Linked DNA regions of Homo sapiens: all the other regions are linked to region 4. The links come from fine-mapping of genetic effects on gene expression. A gene starts in region 4. Each other region holds a variant in brackets. All regions are shown on one strand. Distances are between the middles of the regions. Region 1 overlaps LOC124902554 (a long non-coding RNA gene). Region 2 has its middle 53 kb from the start of ADRB1. Region 3 has its middle 41 kb from the start of ADRB1. Region 4 holds the start of ADRB1 (adrenoceptor beta 1).

Region 1 (2,685 bases), 27 kb after region 4:
CCACCACGCCCGGCTAATTTTTGTATTTTTAGTAGAGACGGGGTTTCACCGTATTGGCCAGGCTGGTCTCGAACTCCTGACCTCATGATGTACCCGCCTTAGCCTCCCAAAGTGCTGGGATTACAGGCATGAGCCACCACGCCCGGCCCTAAATGTATTTTAAAAAATAAAGACAAGTTGAAGCTCCTTGGTTTCTTACCCTGTACTAGTCTCCTTTTTTCCTCCCCAGAGCCAGTCTCTATCATGAATTCAGTAGGTTTCCTTTACCAAGTTGTCATACCTGTTAATATATATATATATGTGTGTGTATATATGCACTATACACACATACACATGGATACATCATAGAATATTGTCTTGTTACTAATTTGTTTGTTTTTTTTTTTTGAGACAGGGTCTTGCTGTGTCCCCCGGGCTGGAGTGCAGTGGCTGGATCATCACTCACTCCAACCTCCACCTCCCCAGCTCAAGCGACCCTCCCACCCCAGCTTCCCAAGTCGCTGGGACTACAGGCACACACCCCCGACTGGCTAATTTTTTGTATCTTTTGTAGAGACAGGGTCTCACTATGTTGCCCAGGTTGATCTCAAACTTCTGAGCTCAAACCATCCACCCACCTTAGCCTCTCAAAGCTTTAGGATTACCGGTGTGAGCCACTGCACCTGGCTTTGTCTTATTATTTTTAAAATTAATTATTACTTTTAGCATATTGTAGATATTAATCCATAGCCACATCATAGTATAGGCATGAATCTACAACTTGCTATTTTTCAGCCAATCCATTTTGAAATCCATTTTTCTACATCATATGGAGACCACTAGTTTTGAGAACTTTAAAAAAGATGATTCCCACAGGGCAAATGTTCCTATTAGGTAATAAAAGATTCAGGTGATGAGTATTATGGACAAAAGGAAGACATTAACTGCACCTCACAGAGTATCATGAGGATCTCTGATTGATCAAATTAAAAAATCAAATTAAGAAGCACAACATTTTTTAAAATTGCAGTGAGTACTAATCAGCCTTGATATGTTTGTTATGGAGCTATTTTATTGAAATAAAAGTGCTTTGAAGATGAAAAGCACATTTTTTTTCTTTCCCAGAATTAAATCATTTCATCCCTCCCTCAGGCTACAAAGTTCATTCAAGTAGAAAAAAGTAAATGCTCCAGTTCTTTTCTTTTTCTTTTTTTTTCTTTTGAGATGGAGTCTCACTCTGTCACCCAGGCTGGAGTGCAGTGGCACGATCTTGGCTCACTGCAACCTCCACCTTCCCAGTTCAAGCGATTCTCCTGCCTCAGCCTCCCAAGTAGTTGGGATTACAGGTGCCTGCCACGATGCAATTTTTGTATTTTTAGTAGAGACAGGGTTTCACCATGTTGGCCAGGCTAGTCTCGAACTCCTGACCTCAAGTGATCCGCCAGCCTTGGTAGTTCTTTTCTTATGGAGTTTCAGCTGACTTATATTAAGGCTTACTTGCTTTCTCTTTTCATTTCTGACCACAGTTTGTAACTTCCCTGCACTGAAAGATACTCTTTTTCCACCCCTTAAAGCATGCAAAGTAATGGTCGGAAGGGAGGG[C/G]TCATTAACGTTTTTCATTTTTTTCCTGTGGTTTCCTCTCATTATTTCATTGCCTAGGCAATATTTTTTAAAAGACCTCATGCTGGTGAACAGAAGTTGACATAAAAGAGCATAACAACTTTTTTGGAGTCTCAAGGTCTGTGATGTAAATACCCCAATTTGTTTTTCAAAGGTTTTCATAATCCATTGTATAAATACACATATTTACATAATTTCCAAAACATGTACTTTGCAGCCACAGTCCTTCCAGCATTATCTATTAATAAGGAGTCACATGTAGATGTGGATTTGCAAGCTTGAATTCCAACACATCACTTTATCATTTTCAAATTTCGTGAGCGCTGGAACTTAGTGGGCAGACTTCCCCATCTCACTTCAAGAAAACATCTGAAGGGTGTCATCCACTTTGGAGGGAACAAGACACCCCAGTTTCGATAAACTTGACCTCTGTGGGATTATACCAGAGAGGGAACTGCTCAAACTGAGCAGAGGGAATGGGTGTCTGTAGGCACTGAACTTTAAGCTTGTCCTTCTAAGGTAACATTTGCAATTCTTTCTATGATGCACTTTTTATTTTGTCCCCTAACTTCTGACGAAGGCCATGGGTATGTCAGTGGAAGTCAATAAAGGTGGCACATAGGTCATTGGAAAAATGGAGGGTATTTTCTATATTTGAGTGGTTTTCAGTGGGCTTCTTCCACCCTTGCTTGAGGCCGAGGAGCTTAGAGAGGATGGGAGGAGTTTAGAGGTGGGGACAGGGCTGCCAACAGTTTGAATTTTGCTTAACTTTGGCTGGTTGGAAGGCAGAGCACCCAAAGGAGACCTCTTTGGGTATTTCCAGATTCCCATCTGTGGCTGAAACCAAAGAACAAGGGTACCAGAGACCCTTTGGTCAAGTCCTCTGCGACGCCTTCACAGGACATTTTACTTGGCCCTCTGTCAGTTTCTCCTAATAAAAATCCTTTTTTATTTTTTGCTTCAACAATCTAGGTCATTTGCTGGTATCTCCTAGGCTTTCCAATTCGACAGAAGGGTCTTCTCTTTACCCTCAGAGCATTTTCATTTTTTACTATATTGAATTTCTTTGGTATATTACCTTTTATA
Region 2 (2,685 bases), 53 kb before region 4:
TTATAAATTCACACTGATATTTATTCATTTGTAATAATTTTCCTGGATGCTTACAATGCTTTTTTTTCTTTACCCTCGAAATTCAAAAAGTTCATTAGGGTAAATCCACTGGTCTATTTAATAAATCTTGCCTGGTACTTAAAGACTCATCTCTTTTCTTTAGCAATTTAGGGTCACTCTGTTTGGTAGTGGGGTCAGAAATAATGGATTTCAGAGTGTCTGAAATCCAGGCAAGCCCCAAGCTTTTTAAATAACTGCATAAGTGAAAGGCAGTGAGATGTGATAGAAAGAACTCAGTCTGTTGAGTCAGCTCTGCAGATGATCAGCTGCGTGACCTAGGACTTGTCACCTGATTGCTCTTGGAGCCTCAGTATCCCCCATCTATAAATGGAGATAGAAAGAACTCCTTGCAGATTTGTTGTGAAGAATAAACAAGGAAACAATCAGGCCTATTATAAATCATATCTCCTCTTGTGCAATATAAGGAGAGTAATTCCTTCCCAGGCCAAGGCCATACAACTTTGGTTCGAGAAAAAAATCAAATTCTATATTGGAACTCAGAGCTGCTCTTCTTACTAAAGGTAAAGGGTCTCGGAAACATGGCTCCCTCCTTGAAGGATGGGAATATTCTAGGGGACCAGGGTGCCTGCCAAGGGTGAGAATGAACATCAGCAGATCAGACCCAGTTACAGGAGCACAAACTGCAGCCTTGGGAAGAGCAGAGGGAAAAGAAAGGCTGTTTCTCTCCTGGTCACTGACATATGCCTCTTGTCCTGTCTCGGGTGTTCCATTGTCCTTATCCCATCATGACTCCGAACCATAGACATGGTGTTGGTAGACCCAGGTGGCCCGCAGTCCAGCAGCTTTGCACCACCCAGGAGCTTGTCAGAAATGCAGAATCTCAGGTCCCACCCTGGAGCTACTGGATTAAAATCTGCATTTGAACCAGATCCTCAGGGGATTCATGTGCCTGTGAGCTTGAGAAGCTCTCGTCTAGATCACATGTTGGTCAGAACCAAAGTTTTAGGTGGCTTCTTTGTTGTCAACCAGTGATTTTATTTTCATGCCTTTGGAAAATAGCAGTGAAAGCACAGCAGAAAATTCTAGAAGAAATGAAAGTAAAGCATATAGAATTTTAAAACACAGAATAAAGTCCAGTGGTTTCTGTCTCAGCCAGTTTCATGGGAGCCAGGGAAGGGTCTGGTTCTTCTCCCTGAGGCTGCTTTAAACTGCTTCCTTGCATTTTAGCACTTGGCAGGCTCAGAATCATTCTCTTCTGTACATGTTCTAAGCCTCTCTGCCCAACCACAATGATGAGAGCACAACTGCTGAAAACCATAATTGTGGCATG[C/T]GTGGCTCCTGTGGCTCCCCCATGCCTCATTCTGAGTCCATAGATGTGGTCACAAAACAGAAATTGGAATGCAATGCCGCGGCTTCTGTGGGTGTTCTGCGGTCTCAGCCTTGATCTCTCTGGGCCCCAGGTTATCTCTCGCCTCTTCTCCAGCTACCACCTGGATGGTGAATGTGTGTCCCCAGCACTGGCCACCAGCCCCTGGCCAGGGGCAGAGGCAGAACCAGAGTAGACGCTGGATGATGACTCCAAGACTTTACGGCTACTGTCCATGCAACTTGAATTTCCAGAGAGGTAAAATAGGATGTTGTTGGAGTGGGGCCTAGGCATTTTCTGGGGCTTTCCACAGTCCGCATGTGGCTGTCTGCCTCAGCTGCGTGAGTTCAGGGAACTTGTCAGTCCTGTCCACTCTTGTATCTGTAGTACCCACTAGAATGTCTGGCATATAAGAGACACTTACTATGTACCTGAACCTAGATCACAGTGCAACAAAGAACCTGCATGATCTTAGACCAAAAGAGCGCGATATGGCTTAGTGAGAAATAAAGCTAATACCCAATCTGTTGATGGGGGCCTCTGCTGCCTTCTAGAAGAATGGCATAATTCCTCTCTGCTGCAGACTGTTGCTTCTTTCTTTCATTCTTGAGGATAAAAGTATCCTTATTGGTTTTGTGAGCCAGGTGGAGGAGGGAGGAGAGGCCTGTGAACATAGTCTGCCTGGGGAAGGGTGAGATCAGAAAGCTTGGAAGCAGGCTTGGTGCGGTGGCTGATGCCTGTAATCCCAACACTTTGGGAGGCCAAGACTGGAGAATGGCTTGAGCCCAGGAGTTTGAGTTTAGTTGTAGTTAGCTGTGGATCGTACCACTGCACTCCAGCTTAGGTGATAAAGCGAGACCCTGTCTCAAAAAATAAAAAGAAAATTTAAAAAAGGAAAAAGCTCAGAAGCAAAATAAAGTGTGAGGAATGTAAAGATTTGGGGGCAGTCTAGCAGAGACGAATGGGATAGCCAGGGAGGCTAGAGAAAATGGGAGAAAACCTGGGAACAGCAAGACCCGTTCCCAGGAACAAAAGGGGACTAGTACCACTTCAGGAGACCGAGGTCCTGGGAGGGAAAAGCACACAGAGGTCACCGCAGCGTCATGTTCTGTTGCAACTCCGCCCCATCTCCCCCAGGCCATCAGTAAAGTCGGCCAAGTGCCACAGTCTTGTAGCGGGGTGTCTTGTGGAAAGCAAGCTGCATTCGACATTTGGGTGGGTGAGAGAGAGAGGCAGGCAGAGAGAGGGGTCCAGGAAGGCAAGCTGTCGAGTGAGGAAACCCAATCAGGGAAGTTGCT
Region 3 (2,685 bases), 41 kb before region 4:
ATCATCTCAGTTTGCCCGAGATTGAAGGGGTTCCTGGAATGTGAGACTTTCTGTTTTAAAAGGGGGACAGTCCCAGGCCAATGGGTGAGAGTTAGTGCAACATACTACACTGCTAGAGTCAAGTAGCAGTGCCTCCAGCACATAACATCTAGCACATACATTACAAAGAAGAGAGACTTTTTCCTTCTTCTACCAAGAAAGGCACAATCTCAATTTAGGAAGTAAGTTCCCTTAAGGCACCACTGACTGGGAATATTTGAGTGTTGGATTCATCCAATGGTTGTATCCAGGCCCTCACAAAGGCCAAAGGAGAATGAAGTTGGACTGGCTGAAGATGTGTTCCCAGCTTTCCCTTTCGCACAGCAAAGCAGGCAGGTCGCTCTGAATACTATGACAACAGGCTCCAGGCAGGATGATAGTGCTGCAGAGGGCTGATGGGTACAGATGGCAGCCAGGAGGGCTCTATTACAGGAGCAGCAGCTGTCTGGGAGGGGAGGGGTGGGCACTGAGCATGCCTGCCTGCTCTTCCGCCTGGGGTCTCCATGTCACCTAACTCGAGCACTTGTCACTGGATTGGCCCATGTGGCAGCTCCTGAAAAATCGGACTCCTAACTCATCTGTGTGGTACCTACCCCACAGGGCTGTGCATCCCTCCTCAAGGCCTCTGAGTCTCATGTCTTTAAGAGTAACTTACGGGAGAGAAAAAAAGCTAACCGTGTTGCCCTGATAAAAATCACAACAGGCCACATGAGGTACTGCAGTGTGTCCCAACGCCCCATCTTCTCTATGTGAGTGATGTACAAGAGAGAAAAAAGCTAAAAGTATTTTGCCCTGATGAAAATCAGAAGAGGCCACGCAAGGTACTGCTGTGTGTCCCAGCATCCCATCTTCTCAATGCTGCTGTCGCCATTTTGGTCATGTCCCAACACTCCCTATGCTATTTTTTTTTTTTTTTTTTGAGATGGGGTTTCACTCTGTTCCCCAGGCTGGAGTGCAGTGGTGCGATCTCGGCTCACTGCAACCTCCACCTCCCAGGTTCAGGTGATTCTCATGCCTCAGCCTCTCAGTAGCTGAGATTACAGGTATGCACCACCACTCCCGGCTAATTTTTGTATCTTTAGTAGAGACGGAGTTTCACCATGTTGGCCAGGCTGGTCTCGAACTCCTGACCTCAAGTGATCTGCCCACTTCAGCCTCCCAAAGTGCTGGGATTACAGGTATGAGCCACCGTGCTTGGTTCCCTACTCTATTATTAACCCAATTTTTTTTTTTTTTCAGACAGGGTCTC[A/T]CTCTGTAGCCCAGGCTGGTCTCTGACTCCCAGACTCAAGAGATCCTCCCCACTCCACTTCCCCAGTAGCTGGGATTACAGGCGCACACCGCCACGCCCAGCTCCGGATTTCTCTTTATATTTCCTCACTTTGTAAACTCAGTTCTATTTTTTAAAAGAAATTGCATATCATCAACATAAATGAAAAACCAGTATCACTTGGCAGAAACATAACAGTCATAAAAAATTAAGTACCATGAAAGCAAAGGAGTATTATTAGATTCCTGCTTGACGTAATTTCAGATGGAAGGCTCCAAGTCTGAAGCCTGCTCTGTCTTGAATAAAAAGAGACAGTAGCAGAAGTTAAGAGATGCTATCGACATACTCATACCACATGGAGACTTTCTCCTTATTAACTGAAAAAGAATTGAAAAAGAATAGTGTTCTCACTCTGAAATTCACTGTTATTTAACCTGTGTTTTGTGCCACCGAAAGTCATCTCACAGTCAGTGGGTAATCTGATTTCACTTTAAATGTATTATCTCCAGTGGTCCTCAACATAGCCTGATAGTTTAATTCTTTCTCTTTCTAGTAAGCATATTTTCCCACTGAACAAGATACTATTCCCAAACATTTTCTCTCTTTCTACACCCCAGTTGTCAACTGCTAATCTTGCCTCACATATATTTTAAAAAATAAAAACATAGCCAGGCACGATGACTCATGCCTGTAATCTCAGCACTTTGGGATGCTGAGGCGGGTGGATCATCTGGGGTCAGGAGTTTGAGACCAGCCTGGCCAACATGGTTAAGCCCCATCTCTAATAAAGATACAAAAAATTAGCTGGACTTGGTGATGCGTGCCTGTAATCTCAGCTACTTGGGAGGCTGAGGCAGGAGAATCACTTGAACCTGGGAGGCAGAGGTTGCAGTGAGCCGAGATTGCACCACTGCCCTCCAGCCTGGGCGAGAAAGTGAGACTCCGTCTCAAAAAAAAAAAAAACACAACAAAAATTAGCCAGAAGTAACTTAAATCTGTGTGCCTGTTTGCATTGATTTGAACCTTCTCCATCCTGTCTTCTCTTACCACTGAGCAAGCGTCCATCTGCCTATCAACAGCCAAACTCTACCAACAGCCAACGGGTATCCTGGATCACCCATTCTCCCTGCCTCCTCTAGGGCTTTGCTACTATGACCATCTCCCTCCCTTCCTTCTTCCAAATTAGTGCGTAAGTATATTCATACCTGTAATCTTTCTTTTTTTTTTTTTTTTGAGATGGAGTCTCACTCCATCACTAGGCTGGAGTGCAGTGGCACGATCTCGGCTCGCTGTGACCTCCGCCTCCCAGATTCAAGTGATTCTCCTGCCTGAGCCTCCTAAGTAGCTGGGACTATAGGTGCGCACCACCACGCCCGGCT
Region 4 (2,685 bases):
TTAATCCTCTGGAGTATTTATATGTTTTCTTGTCTCATCCCTTCAAAACTAATCTCAGAGTTTTGAGAATCTGGGAACTTGGGCAAAGGAGAAAACAAGCACGCAGACCAAGGAATCTGAAATCGCAGTTCATTACGTCAGCATAAACTGACAGTACCTTTTTGTTTGTATTGACCCAGCTCAAATTATAAAATCACATGAGTAATAAAACACAAAATACAGGTGTTATCATTGAAAAGTCTAAAATGTAATTAAACGCGTTTTTTCCCCCTCGCGGTGGTATCGTTTACTCTGTATCTCAACGTTTCTGTCTCCCTAAGCCTCTCCTTTCATATCATGAGCATACATTTTTGCATCATGCTCACACGTTCATTAGCTAGGACTGAGGAGTGTGTACGATTCCAAAGGGCCCTCAGCGTTAGCTGTTAGATGCACAAACCTTCGCTTCCTTTCCACATCTACTGCACTCGAGGTTCAACAGAGGATCCTTGCAAGAACAGCGCCCAGAGAGCATTCTTGACAGATGCGCGCTTGGCTCCAGCAACCCGCTCTGCTGGGAAGTTTCTTCTAACCACTAACACCCACCTCCAATCCCCCAAGCTGTCACGACGCATGCTGGCTGGGTCCCGTCTTGACGGGGGAAGGGTTTTACACACACCCTGCTAGGCTGCCCCACATCACAACCAAGCTCGCAGGGCAAACTCCTCCAAGCCTGGCGGACAAGCTGTCCCAGGCGCTCTGGCGCTTCCTGAACACCAAGGTCCCCTCCCCGCTCAAGGGAGCTAGCGCTCTGTTCCGCAGAGAACCCCGGAACTGCAGGTCGAGGGGATGCGGGGGGAGCGGGGGCGCAGGAGGGAGCCGAGTGCTGGAGGCAAACGGGGCGCAGGAGCGGGTGCGGGAGGCAAACGGGGCGCAGGAGCGGGTGCGGGAGGCAAACGGGGCGCAGGAGTGGGTGCGGGAGCGAGTGGGGGCTGAGGGAGGGGACGGGGCCCCGGGGGGAGCCAGGCGCGGAAGGGGGCGCGGGGGAACAGGGACCAGGAACCAGCGGGCGCAGGAAGGGGTGCGTCCGCAGGAACCCGCGGGCGCACGGGAGGCACTAGCTACGCGATCAGCTCGGGACTCTCAGGAGCCGCTCAATTGCCAACGGGAGGGGGGTGCGGGGAGTTGGAGGTGGGGGTGCAGACCAGACGGGGGCGTGCCTTTGCCCGGATTGGCTGCAGGAGCCTGACGCGAGGCCCCGGGGGTTGGCTTGGGGAGTGGGAGCGGGGTGGGGTGGGTGCTGGGTGCCGGAGCTGCGGGCCCGGCGCGCTCAGAAACATGCTGAAGTCCCGGCGGCTCTTCCAGCAGCGGCAGCGGCTCCAGCAGCAGCGGCGGCGGCGGCGGCGGCGGCAGCGGCAGCGACAGCGCTCGGCTCCTGCGGGAAAGGCGCCCGGCGCCCATGCCTCCGGCCCCGCGCCGCGGCTGCCCTGACCCGGCCGCGACCTCCCTCTGCGCACCACGCCGCCCGGGCTTCTGGGGTGTTCCCCAACCACGGCCCAGCCCTGCCACACCCCCCGCCCCCGGCCTCCGCAGCTCGGCATGGGCGCGGGGGTGCTCGTCCTGGGCGCCTCCGAGCCCGGTAACCTGTCGTCGGCCGCACCGCTCCCCGACGGCGCGGCCACCGCGGCGCGGCTGCTGGTGCCCGCGTCGCCGCCCGCCTCGTTGCTGCCTCCCGCCAGCGAAAGCCCCGAGCCGCTGTCTCAGCAGTGGACAGCGGGCATGGGTCTGCTGATGGCGCTCATCGTGCTGCTCATCGTGGCGGGCAATGTGCTGGTGATCGTGGCCATCGCCAAGACGCCGCGGCTGCAGACGCTCACCAACCTCTTCATCATGTCCCTGGCCAGCGCCGACCTGGTCATGGGGCTGCTGGTGGTGCCGTTCGGGGCCACCATCGTGGTGTGGGGCCGCTGGGAGTACGGCTCCTTCTTCTGCGAGCTGTGGACCTCAGTGGACGTGCTGTGCGTGACGGCCAGCATCGAGACCCTGTGTGTCATTGCCCTGGACCGCTACCTCGCCATCACCTCGCCCTTCCGCTACCAGAGCCTGCTGACGCGCGCGCGGGCGCGGGGCCTCGTGTGCACCGTGTGGGCCATCTCGGCCCTGGTGTCCTTCCTGCCCATCCTCATGCACTGGTGGCGGGCGGAGAGCGACGAGGCGCGCCGCTGCTACAACGACCCCAAGTGCTGCGACTTCGTCACCAACCGGGCCTACGCCATCGCCTCGTCCGTAGTCTCCTTCTACGTGCCCCTGTGCATCATGGCCTTCGTGTACCTGCGGGTGTTCCGCGAGGCCCAGAAGCAGGTGAAGAAGATCGACAGCTGCGAGCGCCGTTTCCTCGGCGGCCCAGCGCGGCCGCCCTCGCCCTCGCCCTCGCCCGTCCCCGCGCCCGCGCCGCCGCCCGGACCCCCGCGCCCCGCCGCCGCCGCCGCCACCGCCCCGCTGGCCAACGGGCGTGCGGGTAAGCGGCGGCCCTCGCGCCTCGTGGCCCTGCGCGAGCAGAAGGCGCTCAAGACGCTGGGCATCATCATGGGCGTCTTCACGCTCTGCTGGCTGCCCTTCTTCCTGGCCAACGTGGTGAAGGCCTTCCACCGCGAGCTGGTGCCCGACCGCCTCTTCGTCTTCTTCAACTGGCTGGGCTACGCCAAC

The links. PIP is the estimated chance that this variant, and not a neighbour inherited with it, causes the effect.
Region 1: its variant is fine-mapped to the expression of ADRB1 in whole blood (TOPMed, PIP above 0.99). The same link has a PIP of 0.9 or more in blood mononuclear cells.
Region 2: its variant is fine-mapped to the expression of ADRB1 in whole blood (TOPMed, PIP 0.97).
Region 3: its variant is fine-mapped to the expression of ADRB1 in skeletal muscle (GTEx, PIP 0.98).

The regions. Positions count from the first base shown.
Region 1 is chr10:114,069,378-114,072,062 of GRCh38, forward strand. The region is part of intron 1 of LOC124902554 (a long non-coding RNA gene); the gene reads right to left. Among named protein-coding and RNA genes, the nearest start is that of ADRB1, 27 kb to the left of the region's middle. The variant C/G (reference allele first, on the strand shown) is at 1,582.
Region 2 is chr10:113,989,892-113,992,576 of GRCh38, forward strand. No RefSeq gene overlaps it. Among named protein-coding and RNA genes, the nearest start is that of ADRB1, 53 kb to the right of the region's middle. The variant C/T (reference allele first, on the strand shown) is at 1,352.
Region 3 is chr10:114,001,867-114,004,551 of GRCh38, forward strand. No RefSeq gene overlaps it. Among named protein-coding and RNA genes, the nearest start is that of ADRB1, 41 kb to the right of the region's middle. The variant A/T (reference allele first, on the strand shown) is at 1,289.
Region 4 is chr10:114,042,555-114,045,239 of GRCh38, forward strand. ADRB1 (adrenoceptor beta 1) reads left to right here and starts at 1,312. Exons shown (of 1, transcript NM_000684.3): 1 at 1,312-2,685. The coding sequence starts at 1,579. RefSeq lists an enhancer at 680-729 and silencers at 1,000-1,279, 1,350-1,409.